Regions from separate parts of the Homo sapiens genome. Here region 2 is linked to region 1. Evidence: fine-mapped expression QTL. Tissue or cell type: whole blood. Region 1 holds a variant in brackets; the other region holds the start of a gene. All regions are shown on one strand. Distances are between the middles of the regions.

Region 1 (2,653 bases):
AGAGTGGCAAGGGTAGAAGACGCTGAGGTGAAACTTGAGCAAAAATTTGAAGGAGGTGAAGTTAGTGAGGCAGATATCTAAGGGAATGGCATCGCAGGCAGAGGGAACATCCTAAGGCAGGGAAGACACAGGAGTATTCCTTTTATATTTGAGGAACAGTAAGAAGATGGGTGTGGGTGGAATGGTATAAGCAAGTGGGAGACAGAAAAATTGAGTACATAGAGGCAATGTGGGACCAGATTGTATAGGGTATGGTAGGCCATTAGAAGGAGTTTGGCTTTTACTCTGAGAGCCCTTGAAAGGATTTGAACACAGGACTGATATTTCTGACTCGGGTTTTAACAAAATTGCTCCAACTTCTATGTAGAGAATACACTAAAAGGGAGCAAGGGTGGAAGCAGGGAGACCCAAGAGTGGGCTACAGTAATATCCCAGGTGAGAGATGATGGTGGCTCAGACTTGATCATAATGAAGGCAATAAGAAGTGGTCAGATTTTGAAGGTAGAGCCAAGGGTCTTTGCTGATAGATGGGATATAGGGTAAGAGAGAAAGAGAAAAATAAAGGATAGCTCTGAAATTTTTGGACTGAGCAACTGGAATTGCCATCCACTGAGATGGGAAAAGCTAAAAGTAGAATAGCTTGGTGGAGGGTAGGGACATGAGTAGCTCAGTTGTACTCCTAAGTTAGAAATGCATATTAGACATCTAGGTGGAGATGGAGAAAAGCCATTGGATATACAAGATTGGAAACCAGTAGAGTGGCGTGAGCTGGAGATTAAAATTTCTGAACCATCAGCATATAGATGGTCTTTAAAGTCATGTGACTAGACAAGATCAACAAGGGCATGAACACAGAAAAGGCCAAGAACAGAGCCCTGGAACGTACCTGGGGTACTTCCTCCAGCTAGGTCAGGTTCCCTTCTCTGGGTTTTCACACCCCCAGGTGGACCCCCTACCCCAGGTTTCCTGGTCATAGCACCAATGACACAGTATAGTTACTGTCATTATCATTGTCCTCATAGGGCTTAGAGTTCCCAAGCAGACAGTCATTCTTGGGCCACAGCACATCCTATACTTAGGGAGTGGTCCAGGCCAGGACAGTATGGCTTCAAATTGTGTCAAAGGAGAGCTTCCAAATCTTTTATAATATATATCCCAGCATCCAGATACAAATGGTAATATTCACGGCACACACAGAAGCAAACAGTAGGCTACTTCTGGCCCTGAGGTATCTTGAAGGGTTGAGGGGGATCAATATCTTGGCTCATCTGTACTGTGACAGATTTGGAAGATCTAGTCTAACCCATTTTTTCCCTCCCCTCCCCCTACCACCTTCAGAGAAGCTGCTGCTGGCTTGGACTGCGGTGGGGCTGCCCCTCCAGGATGTGTCTGTGGCTGCCTGCAATTTCTGTCGCCGTCCTGTACACTTTGAGCTCATGAGTGAGTGGGAACGTTCCTACTTCGGGAACATGGGGCCCCAGTATGTCACCACCTATGCCTGAGAAGCCAGCTGCCTAGGATTCACACCCCACCTGCGCTTCACTTGGGTCCAGGCCTACTCCTGTCTTCTGCTTTGTTGTGTGCCTCTAGCTGAATTGAGCCTAAAAATAAAGCACAAACCACAG[C/T]ATGTGAAGCCTTTTATTGGACAGGGAACAGACAAGTGCATTCTGACTCCCTCAGACAAGTGGCAGATCTATGAGGTAACCATAGGTCACTTGTTGGTCACCATTCCATTTTACCAACAGGGAAACAGAATGAGAAAGAGGAAGGAAATGCCCAAAAACTACACAGTGAGTTGCAAAGAGCTAGGATACTTGGCAGATTTATTTGAGATGGCTCTTCTCCAATGGTTTCAATAAAAATCCAGGGATTGACGCTTCACTGGTAATCCGGGCCCTGGAAATCTGGGCCCAGGGTAGCCCCTGAAGCCAGGAAATGAGTCAGCCCTAACCAAATTCCCTAGAAAGGAGTGGTTCCCCAAAACCAAAGAGGTATTTTCCATAAGGGGATATGGATGTCTTCCTCAATCCATTATCCTCTCTCCCTCCCACGGCATCCCACAGAACAGGATTTACCAGTCCCATTCTTTTTCTTTTCTTTTTTTTTTTTTGGAGACTGAATTTCACTCTTGTTGCCCAGGCTGGAGTGCAATGCATGATCTCAGCCCACTGCAACCTCCGCCTCCCAGGTACAAGCTATTCTCCTGTCTCAGCCTCCTAAGTAGCTTGGATTACAGGCACGCGCCACCACGCCCAGTTAATTTTTTTGTATTTAGTAGAGACGGGGTCTCACCATGTTAGGCTGGTTGCGAACTCCTGACCTCAGGTGATCCACCCATCTCAGCCTCCCAAAGTGCTGGGATTACAGGCGTGCACCACTGTGCCTGGTCTACCAGTCCCATTTTCAAAGGTGAGAAGAGGCTTGGCTAGAGCAAGCACTGTGTTCAAAGCAATGCTCCCACTTTCCAGGTCACAGTATACAGGAAACATTTCCATGGCACACTTAGGGGTACTAATGATACTACTTGCTAAGGAGGCAATCGTCCCTGAAACTTGTGTGGTCCCAGGCCCTGCCTGGCAACTCTGAGGGCTGAGGACCGTTTCTTTCAACCCTGTAACCCACTGTGGCAGCTGTGGGACGCACTAGCTGGAAA
Region 2 (2,687 bases), 22 kb before region 1:
TTGGCAGTATCAAAAACTTTAAATGTCTATTACCTTTAGATCCAGGAATGCTTATATTTTAGGATGCCACCCTCTAAAAAAATGCTCTCACAAATGCCAAAAGATGTTCATTGCAACATTAATCATAATGGAGGGGGGAAAATCCTTGGGAATAACCTAAATTTATATCAATAAGGGAGTGTTTAAATAAATTACAGTGCATTCAGATTTTGTAACCTCCATGGTATATTGGCATATGGTTGAATGAAAAACAAACAAAAAAAAGAAATTGCAAATCAATATGTAGACTATGGTCTTATTTATGTAAATATAATATTAATGATGACAATCTGCTCTAAAGATGAAATTGTCTGGTTATAACATGGTCCTGCTGCCTTAGGATTGATAAGGGAAGGGGAAAAAGAGAGTGACAAAAGGGGAAGAAAATGAAAAAGGGAGGAGAAGGTAATAGAAAAGATAAGACAGAGAACTTCACATTTTTAATTGTATATTATGAGAGGAAGAGAAGAGTGTGGGTTCTGTAACTACATTGCCTAGGTTCATAGGCGGGCTCTGTACTTTCTAGTTGGGTAATTATCAACAAGTTACCTCACCTCTCTGAGCCTCAGTTTCTTCATCTGTAACATAGGGATAATAGTACCTATCTTTTAAGGTCCTTATGTGGCTAAATTAATTCATGTAAAGCACTTAGTGAAGGGTCTGGTGCATTGTAAGCACTCAGTCAACAGTAGGTGTTATTTATTTGGGCCAGGCACTGTGGTATGCGTTTTCCATACATGATATTACCAAATTGTTACAACAACCGGGGATCTAGTCTGTGGAAGCTGACTGTTTGAGCTCATAAGCACAACACTGTATTCTAGGTCTGACTCCAGAGCCCTCCCAACTTGTGCCACAGTCACTTCTGGGTTTTATTGCCCTCCTTTTATAGTTGAGGAGATCTATAGTCAGAGAGGTGGTTTTGCTCAAGGTATCCCAGCTCTATGTGGATGGTCTGATTCCAAAGCCCAAATGAGCTAATTTTACTGTCCTATAGAGAGAAGAAAATAGGGAAGAGCCAGAGCTGGGGGAGGGGGTACACTAGAGGGAGGGGCTACTTTGGGTTTTATCTCTAGCAAGGAAGGGACTGAGATACCTTTGGGGCCAATGCAGGGCCAGGCCGGCAGAAGGCAGGGTGGGTGGGGCTGAGTCAGAGGAGAAGGGATAAATGCCAGGTCCTAACCCAAGTACCCACCTGTCATTCGTTCGTCCTCAGTGCAGGGCAACAGGTAAGAGCTGCTTTCAGCCTGGCACCCTATCTCTGGTCTGCCAGCTGGTCTCTCAGGGCTGTACACACTGACTCTCTGGTCTGAGTAGATCTGACTTTTTCCTTTGTTTGTTTCTTAGAATCTGTCTCTTTTTCATTTTCTTTTTATCTCCCATGTCTCTTTCTGTCTTTCCTCATTTTCAGCTTTTTTCTCTCTTTTTCCCTTCGTTACTTTCTTTTGTTAGTTTTCAAGATCATTCATTTCATTTCATCATTCTCTGACACTCTTGCTTTCTCTTATTTTTCCCTCTGAATTCTAACTATCTTTTTCTCTAAATTTCTTTCTCTCCCCCTTTTTGTCTCTTTCCTCGGCTTTGTATCTCTCCGTCTCTGTGTTTCTGTCTCTCTCTTCCTCTCTATCAAGAACGATGGCTTAATATTTCTTCCTGCAATTCCCCATTCCTCTCTCCCTTTGACTCCCTCTACCTGCTGGGCTGACAGCAGAGCTCAGTGGGTCAGAGCCCATGGGGAGCCTAGGGGTGGGGGAAGAGCTAGGGAGGGAAACTAAGAGGATGTGGGGGTGATGGGAATGATGAATTGGGTAAGGAGAGATTTGGGGAATTGAGAGATGAATAATTAGCAGAAATAAGTGAAGAAAGTGGAAGAGGAATGTAGTGTCACTATACAGAAAGTAAACAGATTTCTATTCTCATCCTAATTCACTGTGAGACCCTAGGCAAGTCATTCACTCTCTGAAAAAAAGGCTTGGCCTGTAATTTCCACCACCCTTTCTAGTTTTGATTTTGTGATCTTCTAAATTTTCCTGTTTCTAAGAATTTCTGATTCTCTGATTACAGTTATCTAAAGTTCTGTATGATTCTTTCATGGTGGGAAAGGGGTACTAGGAAGAGAAGTAAGGCCTGATGTTTCCAACTCCTGAAGAGAAATTACCACTTCCCTTCCAGACCTAATTGACTTTTGCAAAGCAGGCCACAAAAGGGGTGGGGGGGTGGGGGACAAGGAATGCTGCAATGAGTGTTTTCTGGCTGTCTGCTGGGGTAGAGTTGCAGTTGGCCCTTTTCACCTCTGGGAGTACAGATTGGGTGCTGACACAAGAGAGGATTTTAAAGTCGTAGGGAAAAACTTTCAGTAATGATCTGTTACTTGGTCTCAAATTTCACCATCATCTCTTTGGTTAAAAGTATTGTTTTAAGAAGATGCCTGGCAAGCATTATCACACATTAGGTACATAAGTTATTGAATGGTAGAGTAAATGAATATTCAACAGTACCTGAAATTCCACTGTAGTTACAGATCTGTTCCTTTGGTAAGGCATTGGTGACAAATGGCATATGACCTGGAAAGAGGCCTATGTTAGTGCAGCAGAGGAGATAAATGTCTAGAGTCAGGCCCTCAGTCAAGAAAAAAAGGTAGTAATATT

The links. PIP is the estimated chance that this variant, and not a neighbour inherited with it, causes the effect. A credible set is the group of variants that fine-mapping cannot tell apart.
Region 2: ALAS2 starts here. The variant in region 1 is the best candidate, but not a certain one, in a credible set for the expression of ALAS2 in whole blood (TOPMed, PIP 0.90).

What each region holds. Positions count from the first base shown.
Region 1 is chrX:55,008,029-55,010,681 of GRCh38, reverse strand. It overlaps APEX2 (apurinic/apyrimidinic endodeoxyribonuclease 2), which reads right to left. Exons shown (of 6, transcript NM_014481.4): 6 at 1,625-2,653. ALAS2 (5'-aminolevulinate synthase 2) reads left to right here. Exons shown (of 11, transcript NM_000032.5): 11 at 1,339-1,627. The coding sequence ends at 1,502. Among named protein-coding and RNA genes, the nearest start is that of APEX2, 9.0 kb to the right of the region's middle. RefSeq lists an enhancer at 2,612-2,653. The variant C/T (reference allele first, on the strand shown) is at 1,626.
Region 2 is chrX:55,029,523-55,032,209 of GRCh38, reverse strand. ALAS2 (5'-aminolevulinate synthase 2) reads left to right here and starts at 1,233. Exons shown (of 11, transcript NM_000032.5): 1 at 1,233-1,268. It also overlaps a transcript of PAGE2B not described here. RefSeq lists an enhancer at 1,228-2,687.